Linked DNA regions of Homo sapiens. The protein of the gene in region 2 purifies or fractionates together with the protein of the main gene of each other region. This does not show direct contact. Each region holds a gene or a part of one and is shown on either strand. Other genes may lie near its edges.

Region 1 (7,031 bases), on a different chromosome or scaffold from region 2:
ATGTTTATGTGTTTAATGAGCTCTGGAGAGGACAAGAATGATACAGCACTCATCTTATGAATTGGTGGCCTCCATATTCTTCCCATAAAACAGTAATTCCCAACCTGGCTGTACCCTAGAATCATCTGAGAGTTGTTTAATAAATAACAATCTCTGGGACAGTCCTCAGAGATTCTGATTTAATTGGTCTGTCATGAGACCTCAGCATCTTTTTTGCTTGAGTTCCCCTGGGGTTTATAACATACAGTTGGGTTGAACACCACAGCCAACAGCCATCTTGTTTAACCCAGCAGTGTTTGAAAGAAAATGTCATTCACATGCTTTTAGATATCTGCTTTGTACGTTTATATTACGCCACAAAGCCCACACCAGTCTCTCTGCCCACCACATAATGAGAACACAGTGATTTTTGTGGAATGAAGCCTTCATGTAATGCAAGCAGTTTGAGTCAGACTGTTTAGTTCAGGTCTTCAAAAAAGATTTTAAAATGAGTGTTAGAACACAAGACATTAACACCAGAGGGTCTACAGGTGATCGATCATACTGGTGGGCGGCTAAGGTTTCAGATAGTGAGTGCTACACTACTTGTTTTTGTTTCTTAATTTTAGGTCTGAAAGCTAATAACATTGACTACACAGTTCATTCAGTCAGAAGAGCTCTAGAAAACACTGCAGTGAAGGCTGACAATATAGAAGTATTTGCTCAAGGACATGGTATTATTCAGGTATTGTTGCCTATATGAAAAATGGGTTGTAAAGCATCATTGAGATAATATCTTAGATATTATTGGGTAATATTTTGTTTTATAACAGTGATTCAGTATATCTGAATTATGGATTATATGGCCATAGAACTACAAGCAAAAAGGATACACAAACAAATTTTGTAGTTAAGACAAATCTGTTGCACTAAGATCAAGAAATGTAATAGATGGAGGCCATGTAGAGGTTAGAAATTCAAAGAAATCGAGGTCAAAAACTGGCCAATCATAACGGCATAGGGATTAGTTCCTAAATTTGGTCACTTGAGAATAACAGTGTGAATAGAGTGGAGTGGAAGATGTGACTGGTGTTGTTTCTAAAAATGTAGAATTGTCCTCTTAGTTGGGGTACTAGGTAGTTTTGAGAGGTGAATATAGACACTAACTTTTTGTTTTACAACTGAAATCAAATTGATTGGTAATTTGCAACAAAATATTTTTTGACCCAACCATTTATATCTTACCATGTATATTATTTTCACTAGGTTGATAAAGCCTATGACTACCTCGTTCAGAATACATCATTTGCTAATAAATTAGGTTTTACTGTTACTGTTGGAAATAACCGTGGCATCTACCTCCGAGATCCTGTTCAGGTGGCTGCACCTTCAGATCATGGCGTTGGCATTGAACCTGTATTTCCGGAGAACACAGGTCAGTAATAGGCTGGCAGTAAGCTGACGTATTCACATTTGCTGTTTGAATGAGTGGTATCATAATAAAGAATTGCTGTTTGGGCCAGTGTTGTGAAGAGAATACATGAATTGACAGTATGATTATTTTAAATCTTAGTCATAAGAGAAAATATTAGAGCAATTTGGGGTCCTTGTACAATGGCAATTTAGTTAGCATCTTAAACTACCAGGGAAAACAGTAGAATGAGCCTCAGTGACCCACAGCTTTATTAAATTGTGGATAATAAAATATCAAATTTCTTTTCCACTTTACCTACTTAGGTATAAGACAGAGCTTTCTGTTGAAGAATGAAAAGTAGAAGCAGTCTAGGAGAACTGCAGCTCGATTAGGTGTGAACAAAAATAATCATCGCTATTATCTGGCTGTCTTCATTTCAGTTGAATACTATGACCTGTGTGCAGTAATGAAAACATTCACTTAAACTCTTTATTTTAAGGTCATACCAGTGCTTGGTGAAAGTATAAATGAATCATGAGTAATCTAAATTGTAAGGAAGATTATTTGACTGTTTTATTTAAGCTGTGTTTTGGATGCATTTTACAGCCAACCAAACCAAGTCGCTAAATTTTTTTGGAAAGATGTAACATTTTTAAATGGAAAAAAGGAAAAAAATACTCATCTTTAATTTTTGGTCTTTTTCGTGCCAGAAAACTCTGAAAAAATATCCCTTCAGCTTCATTTAGCTCTGACTTCAAATTCATCTTGGGTTCAGTGTCCCAGCCATTTGGAACTCATGAATCAATGTAGACACATAAACATACGTGTGGATCCCAGGGGCTTAAGAGAAGGATTGCATTATACAGAGGTATTGATGTATCTTCATTTTTACTTTCTTCACTCTTTAAAATGTTTAAAAGGTTAAAAAAAAATCCAAAGTATATTTGCAATATATTGCTTTCTTGCTAAGAAATAACTAGACCTATCCATCTGCCAGGTTATTCAGTTCTTCTGGTGTGTCTATATTCATTTAAGCAGTGAGTTTCTAAAGAATCATATTTTGTCCTTGTATGAATAAGTAAAAGGAAAGAAGAGGTACAGCAGAACCTTTCAATTAGATCTCCCTCTAACTGGTGTTTTCTTTTGTCAGCTAAACAAAGCTGCAGTTGCTTGTTGTTGTTGTTGTTGTTGTTTTAAGAGACAGAGTCTTGCTCTGTTGCCCAGGCTGGAGTACAGTGGTGTGATCGTGGTTCGCTGCAGCCTTGAACTCTTGGGCTCAAGTGATATTCACACCTTAGCCTCCTGAGTAGCTAGGACTAGTGGCGTGCACCACCAAGCCTGGCTAAATTTTTTTATTTTTGTAGAGACAGGATCTCTCTATGTTGCCCAGTCTTGTCTTGAACTCTTGGCCTCAAGTGATCCTCCTGCCTTGGCCTCCCAGGGCTTTGGGATTACAGGTGTGAACCACCACACCCAGCCAGTTATACCTTTTAGTACTCAGATGAAGAAAGCATCTGTTAAACAAATAGTTGTAAACCAGGCATAGAATAGTATCACAACAGTATCTCCACATCTAAAGTTGTCTGTAGTACTAGTTTGAGCTAATTTTTCAGTTGGGAGTAATTAAAATGCACTTATTTTGTACCTGACGTCTCATTTTCCCATTTCAACTGGTCAAATGTTGCTATACATTTGTTTGGGCTGTTTGCTATTAATTATGTGACCTAGTGTCAGGAAATTGGTGTCAACCTCTGGTTAAGACCTTGATTAAAAGTAGATTGATTTATTCTGTCAGTAGTTTAGACCTTCCCCCGCTCTTTTAAACATTTGTTTATGGATATTGACACTTACCGATTCTTTTTTCAAGGTATGTGGCTATGATATAGCATCCCCTAACGCAGGTCCGCTCTTCAGAGTTCCGATCACTGCAGTTATAGCAGCAAAGTAAGTAACAGGTTACTCACAGCTTACTGGTACATCTAAGATTTTAATGACTATTCATGGAGTCTTGTGGACTTTTAATGATCACTAATACAGAACCAGGTAATGGGGATTTTGTCTTAGTTCTGCTCCCAGCTAGCATTTTTAGGTGTCATGTAGTCAGCCATACTGACTCTTGTGTGCTCTGAGAGTAACTGATGGCACCTGGCATCTGCCCTACCTCTGCATCAAAACTATTTCCACCACAGTCACTCTGAGCTCTGCATTGCCCAGTTCAGAGGATAACTCAGGCTTCGTCTGACCCGATCCCACTGTAGTATTTGACAATATTACTTCACTCCCCTCCATTCCTGCCCTTTTTGTCTCTGTCGTTTTTGGGATTTACTCTCTTCTCTTAATGCTTCCACTTTTCTAGTTATCTACTGTAGAAGCAGAAGTTAAGAAACTCTTAACTTCCCATCTTATTCCTCTGGAACCAAGGAAAAATCAGCAGATTATATTACTTCCTGCTTAAAGTATATCAGTGGCACCTCCAAAGGTCAAGTTCAAGCTCCTTAAAATAGCAAACAATGCTCCCTCACAATTATAGCCCTAGCCAGTGTTTCCTGTCATTCCGTACACCAAATTACACATTTTGGCCAACTCACTGATTTTGGCACTTGAGGATTCTCAGGATTTGTGCATGTGCACAGCTGATAACTTGGTTTCAATTTCCTGTCTCTTCAGTTAATGACCAGGTGCATTCCTGGTCATCCCTGGGTGAAGGGAGTCCCTTCTTTCTGCTTCGTGGCACATTTTACGTGCCCCTGGACAGACTTTAGCCAATATATTGTAATTTTTTATTTAACTTACACTCTTTCACTGTGAGCCCACCGAAGGCACAGAGACTACTGTTATACAGGATGTATAAAATAAATTATCTAGTGGATGAAGGTGAGATTGGGATTGTGAGAGTACTGGAAACCAAGTGGAAATTCTAAACTAACAGTTCTGTTACTCTGGTAAATATTAAGTATGCAATAGATCTCAGCCCATGAGAAACACAGGATGAAATTGAGGAGAATAAATTTAAAAAGTGGTATACATGTGGAAAAATTGTGCAACAGTTAAATTCTCAGCCGTATATTCCCTCGAAGTCCAGTAGTAATTTAGACCAGGTAATGTGTAAGACCTTCAGGAGTCAGCTGCCACGCCATCTCCTTCAGGAAGCTTCCCAGGCTCCGTAACTCTTCTTGTCTATCTGGAGCATCTTATGTTAAATGTCTCTGATGATGATTCTCTCCATGCTAGATTGTCTAGGTTAAAGAATCATATTTTCTTCTTTGTTACGTTTCTAGCTCCTAATAACAGGGCCTCATGTAGTAGGCACTCATTTAACCGTTTGTCCTACTGACAAGAATTTGTCTCTAGCATAAAATTTGTTTCCGTGGTGGGTAGTTATGCATTTGAACTTTATTTCATTGATTTCTTACAAAAGTGCTTTGAAAGTAGTTTGCCTTTCTTTACTGTTTTACATCATGGGAGTGTTTTGAAGCTACAGGAGGAGCTTAATTTAACACAAGTCTCATAGCTATAATACCAGTGACATAAAACTTTATCATTGATTTTAATATCTAGGACTCACTGTAGTTTGGAATCTGGTAATTGGAAAATTCTGTGAATGTTGTAGAATGCCTTTAACAAAAAAGAGAATGCTTTTTTAATAGTGTGTGTGAATGTATCTTACAAATCATAAAATAGGCAAAAAGTAGAATCATCTATACTCTGCTATTCAGAGGTTATCTCTGCTAACCTACTGCAAAAATTGAACAATATCGTACCTACTGTTTTGTAACCAGCTTCTAAGTCCCTGTGTTTATTTCCAATGAATTGTTATTTTGCGTTTATCCAATGAAATCTAGAGTATCTGTGGTCTTATAATAAATATATACATTTAATTACTTTTATTAATTTTCAGAGTAAATGAATCATCACATTATGATCTAGCCTTTACAGATGTACACTTTAAACCTGGTCAAATTCGAAGGCATTTTATTGAGGTTCCTGAGGGTGCAACATGGGCTGGTAGGTAAAATTAAAATCTGTGTGACCGCTTATCTCTGTTTACGTTCTAATGACTATAGCTGTATGAGGTTCGTTTATCTGTAGCATGTATTTCCCTGGTACTAATATATGTATTTGGGTACCTTAGACTTTCTGTAAAGTTCAAAACGTTTTTAAGATCTAGTACAATTTTGCATTGGCCCATACAGGAAATTAAGCCATCTTAAGATGTTTTTAATATTTAAGGTTTGAGCTTAGTTTAGAATAATGCCTTACCTGGTAATAATTTTTTTTTTTTTTTTTTTTTTTTTTTTGAGACAGAGTCTCACTCTGTCGCCAGGCTGGAGTGCAGTGGCATGATCTCGGCTCACTGCAACCTCCACCTCCCCAGTTCAAACGATTCTCCTTCCTCAGCCTCCCGAGTAGCTTGGACTAGCAGGCGTGTGCTACCACGCCAGGCTATTTTTTGTATTTTTAGTAGACACGAGGTTTCACCATGTTGGCTAGGATGGTCTCGATCTCTTGACCTCGTGATACACTCGCCTCGTCCTCCCAAAGTGCTGGGATTACAGGCATGAGCAACTGTGCCCGGCCTAATTTTTAAAATACTACAAATCAGTTTAAACAATGCAGCTGTTGCTTAAACCTCAAACTGTTAAACTCTCAGAATTTTAGAAATAGAGCTTTAATCTTTGAAGCTCTGTTTATAGAAGATTTTCACTTCAGTGTCTCTGAAATTTTGAGAGTAAATGATTGCCTAACACAAAGCTCTTGAATTAACATGTTATAGTCCTGTGAGAGTGCTCATGTCATTCTTTTTTACAAGAGCTGTGGGTGTACCATATTTTCCTTCACAAGTTGTGTGTCCTAAATTTACAATTTAGCAGTCAGTATAGAAGGGTATGTCAGTTGTCAGAGCTCACTCCCATTGATAGAAGGAAGCAAATACGGGCAGTCAAGAAAGTGTCACCCAATTTAAATTAGTAGCCAGCATTGTTGATACTTCTTGGATTTGGCCCCTCTGCTAAGCACTTTACAGAGATTATCTTGTCTAGTCCCGTCAGAACCCTATAAGGTAGATAGGTGTCATTAGTAAAAATGGCTTGTATTTTACTTAGGAGTGTGTTTTTTGTACTTGTATGAAAGTACAGATATATTTACATCTGAGACTTTATTGAAAATGAAATATTGAAATCACACATGTATGACTTGGTTTGGGAATAACTGGTTGTATTTGGTTCCCCATACCATTTTCTGGTCATCTATCTGTATGCTGTCCATCTGTTTGTCACCTGGTATCACAGGAAATACCAGACTTTTCTTGTTTTTTGTAATTAGGTAAAGGCAAAATAATAGCAAAAGCTGAGAGCTAAAGCAGTGAATTGAACAGCACCCAATATAGCCTGTTAATTTGCACACTGGTTTATAATGGAGCTATTGCAGCAGTGAGAGGCTTCTGAGGATAATCGGGTTGTACTACACTCATTCATTAAGCATATTTTTCTGTACCATCTGTGCCAGGCCCTTTTCAGTGGGCTAAGGTGGTGAGCTACTTAGACAAGGACCCTGCTTCCAGAGGCCTTGAGAGCATCTAGTCCAAGATATTGCAGTTAAGAGAACTGGATTAGAGGGAGGCAGCACAGAGTAGCGGCAA
Region 2 (5,454 bases):
TGGGCTTGCCACTGTAGGGAGTGGGGGTGCCTGCAGCAGCACCTCGACTGCCCGCCTCTTGGCCTCAGCTTGCTCTAAGACCTTACCCATCAGGAAGTGCTTGCATGAATAAGTGAGCCAAAATCTTCCTCCCTATGGCTCTAGCATCCCTCCAGGCTTTGCATTCTGTGTCCACACACATCCTGGAAGAACACCAGAGTCTCCATTCCCCCAACCCCCTTTCACCCATGGGATCTGGAGATGTCTTTTCCACATCCAGATGTCTCGTGTGCAGTGGGATTCCTAAATCTGGAGCTCAGGGGGAGGTGTGCACTGAAGACAGACCTTCGGGGTCATTAGCACCTAGAGGGTCTGTGACACCTGGAGAATGACTGGCTTGCTGAGGCCAGTGGTTCCCAGCCTAGGCTGCATACTACAATCATCCGGAAATCCAGTGAGCGTGGATGCCCAGAACCCACCTACCAGACTGATGAAATCAGAGCCCCTGCGTGTGGGCCCAGGCATGGGCATTTGATTTTTAAAATTTTTTATTTTCTTGGTAGATCACTCACAGAACATGCATGGACATTTTTACAGGCTTTCAGGAGATTCTTTGTGTAGCAGGGTTGAGCTACACTACATCTGAGCCTAGGACCCTGGGAAGAACTCAGAGAAGGCAGCAGTAGAGGCTGGGAAGGAGATTGTTATGAGGTAGGAGGAATAGCAAGTAACGGGGGTGTTTCAAGAACCAGAGCCGAGTGCTGCTGAGAAGTCAAAGTCCTTGTTGCTTTTGTTTTGGAGAATAAGGTTGGTGACTCTAATAAAAGCCACATAATGGCATCATGGGGATGAAGGAGAGTTAATTGAGGGGAGAATGGGGGTGAGAAAGTGGAAATGAAAGTAATCAACAACTCTTTTGAACAGTTTTTGCTGTGAAGAGGAACAGAGAAACAGAGGTGGCCGAAGAGGAATGTGAGGTCAAGGGAAGGTTTAAAATGTGAAATTACAGAGCATGTTTGCGTGTGGCTGGAAAAGCTGCTGGTAGGATGAATGGGCGCAGGAGAGAGTGGGGACAGCTCAATTTTCCAAGCTCTGAGGTGAAAGGAGCCGGGATCAGAGCACAGCTGGGGACAGACACTGTTTCTACTGTAGGGGTAGGAAGAAGACAGATGGATGCCAGTACACTTGCAGATACGGTGGGAGAGCCCGACCTGTTTCCCCAATATGCCTGTGAGGAGACATTGGGTGGGGATAGACAGGAGGTTCTGGGGAGGAGAAAAGCTGCCCTACTAGGGAACAGGGTCTCTTGTGGCAGGGAGTGCCTGCCTTGCACTGTTAAGAAGGATGCAGGCAGTCTGCTTAAATGGATTTCTCTGGCTGTGGGCAGCTGTGTGCAGGCACTGAGGAGGTCTGGGCTCGCCCAAGGCCGGGGACTTTGCCAGACCAGTAAGATGAAACGAGAGAGAACAGGGGGAAGGGACTATGGAGAACAAAGAGGGGATGGTGGGCAGAGGCCTCGAAGAGCCAGAAAAGGGTCCCTGCAGGTCGACATGCCTAGGCAGGGGCGGTACTGGCCGCACTAAAGGAAGTGAGCTGGAAGGAGGTGGCGGCCAGAGGATGAGGCTTGGACAGGAGAGAGCAAAAATTGTGTGTCCGTCATGAAAATGAGGTTCAGGATGTGCCAAGGGTGTGTGCAGCTGAGGTGGAGTTGCGGTGAGGGGCTGGGCAGTCAGAGCCCTGGAGGCATGACGCTTGCGTGCGTGGCTGGCTCCTAGGATGGCGCCAGGAGCAGGAGCAGAGGAGGGAACGCAGCATGGAAGTCTTCAGGAAACTTCTCTCCCCCTGGAATGTCGGCTCCCGGAGAACAGGACCAAGGCTGTCCTGAACACGGCTGTGTCCCCCAGCGCCTGGCACTGAGTAGGCACGCAGCAAACTCTCATCAAGGATTATGCCTGATACGTCATCGGTTCTCTCTCCTTTACAGATGAGGAGACTGACGCCTGGGGTTCCCAGAAGTATCTGCAAATTGTTGGAGTTTCAGCAGGGAACAAGTGTTTTGGACGAGGGTGTCTCTGAAATCCCTTCCACCTGCACCCCGCCCCCACTGCCTCCTCCCAGCTCGGGCCTCCGGGTCTCCAGTTGGGCCCTCATGTTGCTCCTTCCTGAGTCTGACAAGTAAGCCTCACAGCTCCCTCCGCCTGCCTCTTCGTGTCACTCGGCCGTGCAGAGCAACATGGAGTCCTAATGATTTCCATCCCGTCTGTCTGCTGCAGTGGGTTTGAGCCCACGGGTGGCAGGTAAGGCCCAGGTCACCTGTGCCCCTGGAACCGGCACAGGGTGCTTGTGTTGGCCGCAATGAACGTGGGCAGGGGCGTGTGCCGTGAGTGCCCCTGCCGGGAGCTGCTCTGAGCTTTATTATCTGTGAGTCTGCACACTATTCATGAGGAGGGCAGGGCAGGGCTGAGGTCCTCCACAGGCGGCCTGCCTTGTTCCTGCAGGCCAGGGTGGACACAGGCGTGTGTCTGCATGGGCCCAATGTTTGCCCACCAGCCCACCCTCCTGTCCCAGGGGGAGCACCTCTCCCCTCTGGCCACCACTCTGCTGGGCGTTCAGGGCCGGTCACAAGGGGCTGGGCCCTTCCTCCGCTCACGACTCAGCAGGGTCACCAGCTTGGCCTTGAAACCTGCCTGAGGGTCAGGGCGGCCTGTGCCCTCCACCTGATCCAGCTCCAGCAGCCGCCGGTACTGGGCCTCCAGGGTACTGTCGTTGGCCGGGCCGGGCCAGCTCAAGTCCTGGCCGTTGTGGTAGATGGGACTGGTTGTGGGGCTGCGGCTGCCGGGGCCCTCGTGCGGCTCAGGTTCCCCACCGTGCAGCGTGGGGCTGGCCTCCAGCACACACAGGTTCTCATAGAGGTGCTCATTGCCTGGGGGCCCACTGGCACGCTTGCACACTGAAGCGTAGAGCCCGGACGCCAGATCGTTGGGCTCCGGGCCTAGCAGTAGCGGCAGGCTCTGGGGTCCGGGCTCGGCCAGGTGCATTTTCCTGGACGTGGGTGGCTCAGGTCCTGGTGGCATCTCCCGAAGCTCTCCGGGGGTGTCCAGGGAGGGCAGAGAGGTGGCCCGTGGCAGGGGGCAGGGCTGGGGCCTGGTCAGCTCTGGCAGCCGCTCCCGCTGGCGGGCGATGGCCCCGGCCACAGCCCTGCACAGGTCAGGGGCACAGGGGGTGCTGAAGGCAAAGAGGCCCTCACCCGAGTGGCAGCGACGGCCGGCCTCAAAGGAGAACACGCCCTGGGCACAGGGCACACGGGTGGGGATTAGCAGGAGGGTCCAGGGTGTCAGCCCCTCACCCTTTCCCACCCCTGCACCTCACCTTGTCGGAGCCGAACTTGCGCAGGAAGTGGTAGGGCCAGCTGTAGAGGGCCTGGGTGCCCTTGGCCTCCCTCAGCTGGATGGCGTCTGGGCCCAGCACCAGCAGGGCCGGCCCCTTCAGCTGGCAGCGGGTGGCGGCCTCAGTCCTCTGCACCACCACGGGAAACTCGCCCACTGTGGCAGGTGGCCAGGACAGCTCCGTCAGTCCCAAAAAGACCCAGCCCTGGGTGTGGGGGGCTGAGGCTGCCCTTGCACGTCCTCCAACTTACCTTCCTGCCAGGAGGAGTAGATGGAGTTTTCCTCCATGGGGACCAGGCCCCTCTTGGGAGACTGGGCATCTGTGGATCCTGAGGAGGCCTCCCCTGTCCCCTGGGGAATGAGTTCAAGTCAAAGGTGAGAGCACCGCACTCCCATGCCCTGTCCCCTCCCCTCAGTATCCCAGAACTCCACAAGCCAGGGGGCATCCAGGGGCCTGGGCTCCAGTTCCAGCTTTGCCCGGCTCGCTGCATAAGCCTAGGTCCCCTTCCGAGCCTGTTCTCCCACCTGGCTCCCCACTGAGAGTGCTGGGCTGGGCAAGAGGCACTGTGCTTGAGGGTGTCTGAGAGCTGCAGATCACTGGGGACACAAAAGGATGTCCCTTGCAGCCCCTGGGCTTGGCTGGGCCAGCTTCTGTATGTCTGACAGCCTAGAGCAGTACCCCAGGTGTCTTCCTCCATCTCACCACAGCCACCTGCTATGACCCTGCAAGGTGCCCCCAATCTCTGCCTCATCCCCACACCCAGGCCTTCAGCATGTCCCCTGTGCTCTTTCCCACTCAGCTCCTCTACTAGCACCACCCTGGCCCATAGCAACACAGCCGGGTCAAATGCCACAGCTTCCTCACCAGGCTCCTTGCTCCTGTCAACTGCCTTTTTTTTTGACATGGAGTCTTGCTCTGTCACCCATACTTGAGTGCAATGGCGAGATCTCGGCTGACTGCAATTTCCGCCTCCCGGGTTTGTTTTTTTTCTTTAAGATGGAGTCTCACTCTTGTCGCCCAGGCTGGAGTGCAGTGGCGCGATCTTGGCTCACTGCAAGCTCCGCCTCCCAGGTTCACGCCATTCTCCTGCCTCAGCCTCCCAAGTAGCTGGGACTACAGGTGCCCGCCACCAGGCCTGGCTAATTTTTTTTGTATTTTTAGTAGAGATGGGGTTTCACCATGTTAGCCAGGATGATCTCGATCTCCTGACCTCATGATCCGCCTGTCTCGGCCTCCCAAAGTGCTGGGATTACAGGCATGAGCCACCGCGCCCAGCCCGCCTCCCGGGTTTAAGTGATTCTCCTGCCTCAGTCTCCCAAGTAGCTGGGATTACAGGTGCCCACCACCATGCCTGGCTAATTTTTTGTATTTTTAGTAGAGACAGGGTTTTACCATATTGGGCAGGCTGGTCTCGAACTCCTGACCTCAGGTGATCCACGTGCTTCGGCTTCCCAAAGTGCTGGGATTACAGGCACGAACCTCCATGCCTAACCTCAACTGCCTTTTGTTTTTTGATTTTTAAAATATGATAAAATACAGAGAACATAAAATTTACTGTTTTAACCATCTTACTTTTTTTTTTTTTTTTGAGACAAAGTCTTGCTCTGTCGGCCAGGCTGGAATGCAGTGGTGCGATCTAAGCTCACTGCAACCTCTGCCTCCCAGACTCAAGCAATTCTGCTGCCTCAGCCTCTCAAGTAGTAGCTGGGATTACAGGCGTGTGCCACCACACCCAGCTAATTTTTGTAATTTTTTTTTAGTAGAGATAGGGTTTCACCATGTTGGCCAGGCTGGTCTCGAACTCCTGACCTCAGGTAATCCGCCTGCCTCGGCCTCCCAAAGTGCTGGGATTACAGGTGTGAACCACTACGCCCGGCCCATTTTACATCTTAAAGTGTATCATCAGTGCTCTTTTTTTTCTTTTCTTTTTTTTTTTTTTTTTTTTGAGACGGAGTTTTGCTCTCGTTGCCCAGGCTGGAGTGCAATGGCATGATCTCGGCTCACCGCAACCTCTGCCTCCCAGGTTCAAGCAATTCTGCCTGCCTCAGCCTCCCGAGTAGCTGGCATTACAGGCATGCACCACCATGC

What was found. The genes of interacting proteins can lie anywhere in the genome.
Region 1: the proteins of DOK3 (region 2) and TPP2 purify together in Homo sapiens (affinity purification with mass spectrometry; 4 studies listed by BioGRID and IntAct, with this or other methods). This does not show direct contact.

The regions. Positions count from the first base shown.
Region 1 is NC_000013.11:102,634,979-102,642,009, forward strand, and holds part of TPP2 (tripeptidyl-peptidase 2), read left to right. Parts: intron 1-608; coding exon 609-724; intron 725-1,245; coding exon 1,246-1,414; intron 1,415-2,103; coding exon 2,104-2,261; intron 2,262-3,260; coding exon 3,261-3,337; intron 3,338-5,291; coding exon 5,292-5,398; intron 5,399-7,031. UniProt on the Homo sapiens protein: Cytosolic tripeptidyl-peptidase that releases N-terminal tripeptides from polypeptides and is a component of the proteolytic cascade acting downstream of the 26S proteasome in the ubiquitin-proteasome pathway.
Region 2 is NC_000005.10:177,501,395-177,506,848, forward strand, and holds the end of DOK3 (docking protein 3), read right to left. Parts: intron 3,717-5,454; coding exon 3,617-3,716; intron 3,522-3,616; coding exon 3,349-3,521; intron 3,267-3,348; coding exon 2,589-3,266; 3' UTR 1,999-2,588; coding exon of another isoform or gene 1,651-1,998; 3' UTR 510-1,650; downstream 1-509. UniProt on the Homo sapiens protein: DOK proteins are enzymatically inert adaptor or scaffolding proteins. They provide a docking platform for the assembly of multimolecular signaling complexes. DOK3 is a negative regulator of JNK signaling in B-cells through interaction with INPP5D/SHIP1.